Regions from separate parts of the Homo sapiens genome. Here region 1 is linked to region 2. Evidence: fine-mapped expression QTL. A gene starts in region 2. The other region holds a variant in brackets. All regions are shown on one strand. Distances are from middle to middle. Region 1 overlaps JOSD2 (Josephin domain containing 2). Region 2 holds the start of EMC10 (ER membrane protein complex subunit 10).

Evidence for each region. PIP is the estimated chance that this variant, and not a neighbour inherited with it, causes the effect. A credible set is the group of variants that fine-mapping cannot tell apart.
Region 1: its variant is the best candidate, but not a certain one, in a credible set for the expression of EMC10 in monocytes (TOPMed, PIP 0.52).

Annotation. Positions count from the first base shown.
Region 1 is chr19:50,500,702-50,506,065 of GRCh38, reverse strand. JOSD2 (Josephin domain containing 2) reads left to right here. Exons shown (of 5, transcript NM_001270639.2): 5 at 1-68. Among named protein-coding and RNA genes, the nearest start is that of JOSD2, 7.8 kb to the left of the region's middle. RefSeq lists an enhancer at 4,072-4,735. The variant A/G (reference allele first, on the strand shown) is at 2,174.
Region 2 is chr19:50,474,266-50,479,629 of GRCh38, reverse strand. It overlaps EMC10 (ER membrane protein complex subunit 10), which reads right to left and starts at 3,123. Exons shown (of 7, transcript NM_206538.4): 1 at 2,972-3,123; 2 at 1,629-1,701; 3 at 564-673. The coding sequence starts at 3,085. GARIN5A (golgi associated RAB2 interactor 5A) reads left to right here and starts at 2,782. Exons shown (of 5, transcript NM_001308429.2): 1 at 2,782-3,500; 2 at 3,697-3,797; 3 at 4,127-4,305. The coding sequence starts at 3,242. RefSeq lists enhancers at 2,919-3,118, 2,985-3,485.

The sequences.
Region 1 (5,364 bases), 26 kb before region 2:
CCGCCCCCTCCCCACACCCCTGCTCCCCACTGCCGCTGCTGCCTCAATAAATCTGCTGATTTGCTGCCTGCCTGGCCTGTGTCTGACGGCCCCACCCTTCTGGGGCCCCTTCCACTCAGTGACTCCCACTTACCTTACAGGCCAGACACCCTGGTGTGTGGGGCCGAGAGCCCAGGAGGCCTCCTGGTTCTCTGCCACCTCATGCCAGTTTCTCACTGCTGGGCCTCAGTTTCCTCATCAGTGACACAGCAGAAAAAAACACAAGTCCGTGCCCCCTGGGGCTCACGCTCCTCCGGTGCTGGAGAGAGACCAGTGGCAAACAAATGAGTTTGATCTCCTGGGTTCCACGGGGGTCATTGCTAAGGAGAAAGCAGGTGTTTACTTCTTTATTTGATTGATTGATTGAGACAGGGGTCTCACTCTGTCACCCAGGCTGGAGTGCAGTGGGTCAATCACAGCTCACTGTAGCCTTGAACTCCTGGGCTCAAGCGACCCTCCCACCTCAGCCTCCCAAGTAGCTGGGACCACGGGTGCATGCCACCATACCTGACTACTTTCTTTAAATTTTTTTGTAGAGATGGGATCTCGCTTTGTTGCCCAGGCTGGTCTTGAACTCCTGACCTCAAGCAATCTGCCTGCCTCTGCTTCCCAAAGTGCTGGGATTATAGGTGTGAGCCACCATGCCTGAGTTTACTTCTTGACTCTCGATTCTATTCCGTTGATTGGCAGGCGGGCAGAACAGTGGCCCCAAAGATGTCCACACCCTGGCCAGATGTGGTGCCTCATGCCTGTAATCACAGTGCTTTGGGAGGCTGAGGTCCACAAGTATGAGACCAGCCTGGGCAACATAGCAAGACCCTGTCTCTAAAAAAAAAAAAAATTAAAATAAGTGGCATGTGAGGCTGGTGGCTCACGCCTGTAATCTCAGCACTCTGGAAGGCCGAGGCGGGTAGATCACCCGAGGTCAAGAGTTCAAGACTGGCCAGGCGCGGTGGCTCATGGCTGTAATCCCAACACTTTGGGAGGCTGAGGCAGGCAGATCACGAGGTCAGGAGATCGAGACCATCCTGGCTAACACGGTGAAACCCCGTCTCTACTAAAAATACAAAAAAATTAGCCAGGCATGGTGGCGGGCACCTGTAGTCCCAGCTACTTGGGAGGCTGAGGCAGGAGAATGGCATGAATCCGGGAGGCAGAGCTTGCAGTGAGCCAACATTGTGCCACTGCACTCCAGCCTGGGCAACAGAGCGAGACTCTGTCTCAAAAAAAAAAAAAAAAAGAGTTCAAGACCAGCCTGGCCAACATGGTGAAACCCCATCTCCACTAAAAATACAAAAATTAGCTGGTTGTAGTGGCGGGTGCCTGTAATCCCAGCTACTCAGGAGGCTGAGGCAGGAGAATCGCTTGAACCCAGGAGATGGAGGTTTTGGTGAGCCAAGATCGCACCACTGCACTTCAGCCTCGGCAACAGAGGAAGACTCTGTCTCATAAATAAATAAGCGGGACATGGTGGCCAGCACCTATAATCGCAGCTACTTGGGAAGCTGAGGCAGGAGGATTGCTTGAGCCCAGGAGGTTAAGGCTGCAGTTAGCCATGATCGTGAGTAAGAGAGATCTTGTCTCAAAAATATAATAGCCCAGGCATGGTGGCTTACACCTGTAACCCTAGCACTTTGGGAGGCAAAAGCAGGAGTATCACTTGAGCTCAGGAGTTTGAAACCAGCCTGGGCAACATAGTGAGACCCCGTCTCTACAAAAAATTTTAAAATAAGCTAAGCATGGTGGTGCACACCTGTGATCCCAGCTACTTGGGGGGTGGAGGCAGGAGGATCACTTGAGGCCAGGAGGTCGAGGCTGTAGTAAGCCATGATCGAATCACTGCACTCCACCCTGGGTGACAGAGTGAGACCCTGTCTCAAAAAAATAAATAAAAATAAATATAATAGACCAGGCACGGTGGCTCACGCCTGTAATCCCAGCACTTTGGGAGGCCAAGGCGGGCAGATCGCGAGGTCAGGAGATTGAGACCATCCTGGCTAACATGGTGAAACCCCGTCTCTACTAAAAATACAAAAAAATTCGCTGGGCGTGGTGGTGGGCACCTGTAGTTTCAGCTACTGGGGAGGCTGAGGCAGGAGAATGGCGTGAATCCAGAAGGCAGAGCTTGCAGTGA[A/G]CCAAGATCGTGCCACTGCACTCCAGCCTAGGTGACAGAGTGAAACTCCGTCTCAAAAATAATAATAATAATAATAATAGGCCAGGTGCCGTGGCTCACGCCTATAATCCCAGTACTTTGGGAGGCCGAGGTGGGTGGATCACGAGGTAAAGGGATCGAGACCAGCCTGGCCAACATGGTGAAAACCCCATCTCTACTAAAATTACAAAAATTAGCCAGGTGTGGTGGTGCACGCCTGTAATTCCAGCTGCTCGGGAGGCTGAAGCAGGAGAATCACTTGAACCCAGGAGGTGGAGGTTTTGGTGAGCCGAGATTGCACCACTGCACTCCAGCTTTGGCAACAGAGGAAGACTCTGTCTCATAAATAAATAAATAAGTGGGACGTGGTGGCCTGCGCCTGTAATCACAGCTACTTGGGAAGCTGAGGCAGAAGGACTGCTTGAGCCCAGGAGGTTAAGGCTGCAGTTAGCCATGATCGTGAGTAAGAGAGACTTTGTCTCAAAATATAATAGCCCAGGCATGGTGGCTCACACCTGTAACCCTAGCACTTTGGGAGGCAAAAGCAGGAGGATCACTTGAGCTCAGGAGGTCGAGGCTGTAGTGACCCATGATCGAATCACTGCACTCCACCCTGGGTGACAGAGTGAGACCCTGTCTCAAAAAAATAAATAAAAATAAATATAATAGACCAGGCACGGTGGCTCACGCCTGTAATCTCAGCACTTTGGGAGGCCGAGGCGGGCGGATCATGAGGTCAGAAGACTGAGACCATCCTGGCTAACACGGTGAAACCCCGTCTCTACTAAAAATACAAAAAAATTAGCCAGGCATGGTGGCAGGCGCCTGTAGTCTCAGCTACTGGGGAGGCTGACGCAGAATGGCGTGAATCCAGAAGGCGGAGCTTGCAGTGAGTGGAGATCGTGCCACTGCACTCCAGCCTGGGTGACAGAGTGAGGCTCCATCTCAAACAAACAAACAAAAAATTAGGCCAGGTGCAGTGGCTCACGCTTATAATCCTAGCACTTTGGGAGGCTGAGGTGGGTGGATCACAAGGTAAAGAGATTGAGACCATCCTGGCCAACATGGTGAAAACCCCATCTCTACTAAAATTACAAAAATTAGCCAGGTGTGGTGGCACATGCCTGTAATCCCAGCTACTCAGGAGACTGAGGCAGGAGAATTGCTTGAACCTGCAAGGCGGAGGTTGCAGTGAGCCGAGATCGCACCAACTGCACTCCAGTCTGGGTGACAGAGTGAGACACCGTCTCAAAAAAAAAAAAAATTAGCCAGGCATGGTGGCAGGTACCTGTAATCCCAGCTACCTGGGAGGCTGAGACAGGAGAATCGCTTGAACCCAGGAGGCGGAGGTTGCAGTGAACTGAGATCGCGCCATTGAACTCCAGCCTCAGCAACAAGAGTGAAACTCCATTTCAAAAAAAAAAATTAATTAAAATAAATACAGTTAAAAGATGCCTTGTCCTAATCCCTGGAGCCTGTGAATATGTTGTGTTACTTGGCCAAGGGAGAGTGAGGTTGCGAGTGGGACTGGGACAGGGAGAGTGTCCTGGATCCCCCGGTGGGCCCCGGGTCATCACGAGGGTCCCCACAGCGGAGGAGGGACGCCTGTGCTGACGGGAAGTGTCGGCCCACCCTCCCAGCTCCCACCCTGTGGGGAGACCCAAGGGGACACCAAGAGTTTCTGTCCCAGCAGTGGGGGCTTTTATGGGGTTCCCACAGAGCACTGCAGGGACGAGAGAACAGAGAAGGGACCCCGGGACAAGCAAGTCGCATAAAATGGCCCAGAGACAAGGCTGGCCACGGAAGGCTGAGGAGGGCTCTGCAGAGGCTGGCGGGGCACGGGAGGGCACTCCAGAATTGGAAGTCATCCCGGATGAGACCTGGAACGCCACGGCTGTTTATCGCCAGAGTTATTTGAGGAGGTGATGAAGGAGGAGGGTGGGTCCCGGCCAGGAACCCAACCAGGCGGGACCTCCAAGGGCAGCCTGGGAGCTGCGAGAAGGGAAGGACAGGTCAGCTCTGGGTGCAGAGACCCCTCTGGGGCTGCAGGCACAGAATGGAGGGGGAACCAGAAGCCAGGAGGCCCGGGAGGAGGCTGGGAGGGGCGAGGCAGGGCTTGAGCTAGGCCCCTGAGGGCGACAGAGAGGAGGGTCTGAGGCTGGTGGGCCCTGGGAGGTGAGGAGGCAGGAATGAGTGGAAGGTGTCCAGGGGCCTGGATGAACCTGGGGATCCCCGTTAGGCACCTGCAGAAGTGGGGGACTCAGGCACAGGGAGGCAAGGGGTCCCTGGCTTGGGGTGTGTCCCCTCCTGGAGCCACAGGCCCATGCGCCCAGGCAGGCAGTTCATCCAGGCAGCCCACAAGCTGCCCATGCACCCCTGGCAAGGTGGAGCTGATGCCCCGCAGGACACACTCATGAAAGCCCTGGCTGCGCATGGACCAGGGTGTGGCAGGTTCTGGTTTGCAAGTTTTCCCAAGGTCAAAGGGCAGGTCGTAAAGTTAAAAGCCAGACAGCACCGGAGGGGAAACTGCTGGGGGTTGCAGACTCCCGAACGGCTCTGGCCCCATCCCATCCAGATCCCTGCACCTCCTGCCCGCCCACCGGGCTCCCCACGCCTCTGCTGGTGTGGGTCTCGCTCTCTGCCCCATCTGGGTGTCTGGCCCCGGGCCCCTGGCTAACCCCCTCTGTCTCTGTGTCTCCCTCTCTCGCTTCGCCTGTCTCAGCCTCCCTTCTCTATCTCTCTTGCTGGGCATTTCTCTCCACCCCTCTCTGTCTCTTTGACCCTGTCTCTCTGTCTCTCCCACGGTCTCTCTCAGTCTCTCCTCAGCTCGCTGTCTCTCCCCTCTGTCTGTGTCTCTCCCCTTCTCTCAGTGCCCCTGGGCCCCTCCCTGCCACCCTGTGCCTGTCGCCTGTCCCATCGCAGGTCCCAGACAGACTGGCGGGGGCCTGAGTGTTGCTATTCTTGGGCCTGAGTGGCAGGCGGGGCTGTGGCCCCCAGGTGCGTCCTGGGCTATGGCCAAATAAGGTCCGGAGTGAGGAGCCCCGGGAGGAGGAGCTGGGGGCGCTGGGGGTGGGGGGAGAGGGGCCAGCTGACCTCCTCCTGCTCCCACTCCCTCCTGCCCCAACCCCCATATTCTGGCAGGTGAGAGCGGGCAGGACAGACCAGGTCATTGC
Region 2 (5,364 bases):
GGCTGATGGGTGGAAGTGGGTTGTGCCAGCTTTTGCAAGCTTTCTCTAAATGCTGCTGCTCCTTCTGCCCCTCTTTCTCCCTCTCTATCCTGCTGCCTGGAGCCCTGGGGCCTCTCTGCATGACCCCTGCGGAGGATTGAGCTGGGCCCTTGAGGCTGCCACAACACAGGGCGACAGAAGTGAGCTCCTGTCCAACCATAGCTATTTTGAGGCTTTCTCCTCACAAACAAATCTCATCTAAGTGGTCATGAAACAGCTCAGCTGATCTGGAAAAGAAGAGGAGCCGACTGTGTGAACCTGCAGGGGAAGGGGGTCTGCCAGCAGAGGGAGCAGTGCAGGAAGAGGCCGTGATGCAGGACACCATGCCTGGCGGCGCTAAGACGAACTGCAATGCCGTTCCTCCAGGGGCAGTCATTGAGGACAGAGGCTGAGAGTGGCAGGTGGTGCTGGGAGCCCACCTGGGCCTGGAGGGAAGGCTGCTGGGGACCAGCAGGGGGTGGCTGAAGAGACAGCTGGAAACCCTCCATCCCCATCCACACCCAGCCCTGAGGGCCCCACCTCACCCGGAGTCGGCCCCGCTCCTCCTCGCTGAGCTGCCGCTGTGACAGGGACAAGGTACCATCCTGCTGGTTCCAGAGCAGTGAGCCCCGCTTCCGGAAGTTGGCACTGTCATCTGTGAGGAGCTCAGGTTCAGAGACGCCCCCTCCCCCGCCCACCCTTCAACCCAGGCAGGGGCCAGGAGGTCCAGCTTCAAATTTTGGCCTGGCCTCCACCCGAGTGACCAGGTTCCCTCCCCATCTGGGCCCCCATTTTGCTATCTGCAAAGTGGGGACACCTCCACCATGTTCCACCTCACAAGGCAACCCGTAGCAGATGCATGAACCCCACAGCTCCCAAATCCTGCCTCTGCCTCACCAGGTGACCCAGGGATAGCCACACAACCTCTCTGAGCCTCAGCTTCCCCAACTGCAAAATACGGAGGCTGTGGAGTTCAGGAATTCCCAACTACCTGGCCATGTCAGAATCAGGGGAGCTGTTCACTGAGCAGATGCCAGGGTTTGCAGAGGGGCACCAGCTTCAGGGTTTGTGCCCTCAGGTTCGGGGCCTCAGACTCGATTACTACACTCTGGGCAGCACTGACGTCCAGCTCTGGGAACCTGGACACCTGCATCATGGCAATTTAAGTTTGGGTTTGAAGCTGGCCCCTGCTCTGCCACTCACTCACGATGAGACCTTGTGTGGTGCCTACTCTGAGCCCGTTTCCTCTTCTGGAAAAAGGGGCTGACACGAATACCTACCACCTCACATGGCTGCTGTGAGGACATCTGAGTTAATACTTGCAAAGCGTGGAACCGCTAATGCTGGGCACGTGGCGACTGATCAGGAAAGCCGCTCTGAAATTATTACTGCTGTGATGACCTTTTAAAAACTGAGGTTTGTCTCACAGGCAAGGGGGCATTTAAAGAGTGTTTCTCTTCTTTCATGTCCCACTTTCCCCTAACCTGAGGCAAATCTGTTAGTAAATGGTTGTTAGTAAATGTCATACGACGGGAGGCACCCAGACTCCAAGTCTTGACTTCTCAGGGCACCAATGTTAAGTGTCTAGGAGAGGACGTTGCCTGACTCACCGATCTCAAATGAGTGCTCCAGCAGCAGCCCCACCGTGCCACAGGCCTCGCCCTCTCGACCTTCCGCCCCAGCCTGCAGAGGACACAGAAGGCCCCAGGTGAGGACCACCCAAGCCCTCAGCATAGTAGTCACCCACAGAACCCAGGACAGACAGACTGGTGGGCTGAGGGAGGAGCCTTATCTTCAAGTTAATCACTGCTGCTTGCCTTTATTTCACTAGAAACCACCCATTTCATGAATATTCATACTCTGCACTCCCTCACCCCCAGAAAACCAGACCCTACAAACATGCCTAACCTCATTGCCAAAGCAACTATCCCAAGGTCACTTCCAAGCCTTGCGCCACAAATACTCATGAGTTAAATGACACTCTCCCTCTCCCAAGCCTTCTTTTTCATGCTAATATTCAAATGGCCTCCTTATCACCTGACAGCCCAATAGCCAAGATGCAGCCTGAGTTCAGTCCCTATTAAGCACATTCAAGATTCATGCTTTCCTTTTCTCCAACCTCCAAACTTGCATACTCACGCATATTTAGGAGACAAAACTCATCTCCACTTCCTCAAGAGCCCCCTCCCACGCCTTATTTTCTTTTTCTGAGACAGGGTCTCGCTCAGTCGCCCAGGCTGGAGTGCAGTAGCGTGATCTCAGCTCCCTGCAACCTCTGCCTCCTGGGTTCAAGCGATTCTCCTGCCTCAGCCTCCCGAGTAGTTGGAATTACAGGCACCTGCCACCACATCCAGCTAATTTTTGTGTTTTTAGTAGAGACGGGGTTTCACCATTTTGAGCAGGCTGGTCTTGAACTCCTGACTTCAAGTGGTCCGCCCGCCTCGGCTTCCCGAAGTGCTGGGATTACAAGCATGAGCCACCGCGACCGGCCTAATTTTTTTTTTTTTTTTAGTATTTTTTGTAGAGACAGGGCTCGCTATGTTGCCCAGGCTGGTCTTGAACTCCTGGCCTAGAGCAATCCTCCCGCCTCGGCCTCCCTAAGCGTTGGGATGACAGATGAGCCACCGCGCCCGGCTTCACCTTGCCTCTTTCATTTCAACCGCCCGGACGTCGGATTCTCCAAGATTCCACACCCCCAGCCCCGCCCCCTCATACATATTCCCGAGCCAGAGCCTTCCGACAGGTGCGCTTGTCCTCCCACCCAGTCCTTGCAACCCGGTGCACTGGCGAGGCCCCTCCTGCGCGTGCGTGACTGAGGCCTGGCTTTCCAGGGATCTCCCACCTCTTCCCTCTCAGCCCTGCGCAGCCTCCTTCCGTCTGTAACTCACCTAAAGACCCAAGACCTGCGACATCCGTAGACCGCGCCCGCTATGCACAGCTAAAGAGCACTCACCCCTCGCGCACCAGTCCCGGCCCGGCAGCCGCTGCCCCGGGCTCGACTGGGCGCTGCTACCGCCATCAGCAAGAGCAGGAGCAGCCGGGTTGCCCCAGCGCTGGCTGCCGCCATCTCGGCTTCTTCCCACCAGCGAAGGGACGGCTGTGAGCCAAGAGCCGCGGAGCACGCCGGGAGGAACAGGCCGCATCCTGACGCCCGTGCGCCTGCGCTGGGCCCCGGCACCTGCGCACTGGCACCCGTCCGCACCTGGGGCCTGACGTCAGCAGGATGGGGCCGCCCCTTTGGCCTGATCTCCAGGAGCCGCCCCCTCCAGGGACGTCATCACAAATCAGGAGCCCGCTCTTGTGTGACGTCATAAAGCCCGCTCCGCATCATGACGTCACAGTGCGCGTAGTCCCGCCCCCTCGCTTTCTCCCTCTGCTCCTCCGTCCGCTCCCGTCGGACGGGGACATTGCAATGAGGCGGGATCGCGGCCCTAAGCCGGCCCTGGGTGGAGCTGGCGAGGTGGAACCAGGTGGGATGGCAGGTGAGAGAGGGGAGCCAGGCCTAGAGGGGTTGGACCTGGTGAAGGAACCAAGTAGGATGGGGCCGGCAATTCGGGGGCATCTGATACCCCGTCCTCTCCGCGGGGCTGTGCCGGGCCCTCTCAGTTGGGAAGCCAGGCACAGCCTCCCAGGATCGACCCCCAGACTTCGTCCTGGTAAAATGCCTCCTGGTTGCAGCCTCTCCCACGGGCCGTCCCAGACGGCTCCAACGCTACCTCCAGAGCGGCGAATTCGACCAGTTTCGGGACTTCCCCATCTTTGAGAGCAACTTCGTACAGGTAGGGAGCCCCAGAACCCCCTCATCCCCAGCCTCGGCCTGCCCCTCGACCTCCTCCTGACTTGGAAAGCCCCTGCTCCCCCATAACGTCCATCTCGTGGGATTCCCGACTCCCAACTCCTATGTGATCTCTGACACCCCATACTTCTAGTTCTCTAGATTCTTTGTGAACCCTGGCCTGTAACTCCCTTGCCTCAGTTTCCCTGACTTCACACCCATATGATTCTTGAACTTTAATTTCAAGATATCTGGCCCCCAGCCTGATTTTCAACTCACCTGGTTCATGACCTTTTCCCCTACCAAGATTCCTAACCTCTGATCCCTCCTCAGTTCTGCCCCGACATCTATCCTGCCCCGACCTCTGACCTCTGGCCCCAGGTGACTCGGTTGGGAGAAGTTGCCAACGAGGTCACCATGGGGGTGGCAGCCTCCAGTCCAGCCCTGGAGCTCCCGGACCTATTGCTTCTGGCCGGCCCTGCCAAGGAGAACGGACACCTGCAACTCTTCGGGTAACTGCCCCCACCTCAGCCGAGACCCCTTCCTCCCTCAGCTCCAGGCACCTGAGCCCCCAGCAGTACCTCCCCTCGTCCAGACCACCCCCAGGGCCAGGAGCTGGCAGTGCTACCGGCCCTCCCTGAGCTGCCATCTACCCGGGAGAACAAGGACAGAGCAGCCCTCAGGGGCCAGAAATCAGAGATTAGACAGACCTGAAGGGGACAGTCCTCAGCCATGCCCCAGCAGCGGTCAGGAGAATGATCATTTCCGCAGGGCCTGCTCATGCCAGACGCCCCTAGGCCGCGCATACGATCTCACCTCTGACCTCATATCTTCACATGGTGGGGTCCCTTAGCCCCATCCGCCAAAGAGCTAAACTGAGGCTCAGAGAGCCGGGAGCCAGTTGCCCAGGGTCCCACTGTGGCTCCAGAGTGGGCCAGGATTGGAATGCCAAGCTTGTCATGATTGTGGATCTCATGGTTCTTGAGCCCTCCTGTGCCTCACTCCACACTGCCCCTTTACGTCATATTTTTTCATTGAAAAAGTAATGCAGATCGGGTGCGGTGGCCCACACCTGTAATCCCAGCACTTTGGGAGGCCAAGGCAGGCAGATCATTTGAGGCCAGGAATTTGAGACCGGTCTGGCCAACATAGCAAAACCCTGTCTCTACCAGAAATACAAAAAATTAGCCAGGGCCGGGTGCGGTGGCTCACGCTTGTAATCCCAGCACTTTGGGAGGCTGAGGTGGGTGGATCACGAGGTCAAGAGAACGAGACCATCCTGGCTAACACAGTGAAACCCCGTCTCTACTAAAAATACAAAAAATTAGTCGGGCGTGGTGGTGAGCGCCTGTAGTCCCAGCTACTCGGGAGGCTGAGGCAGGAGAATGGCGTGAACCCAGGAGGCGGAGGTTGCAGTGAGCTGAGATTGCGCCACTGCACTCCAGCCTGGGCGACAGAGCGAGACTCCATCTCAAAAAAAAAAAAAAAAATTAGCCAGGTGTGGTGGCGGGCGCCGGTAATCCCAGCTACTCGGGAGGCTGAGGCAGGAGAATTGCTTGAACCCAAGAGGT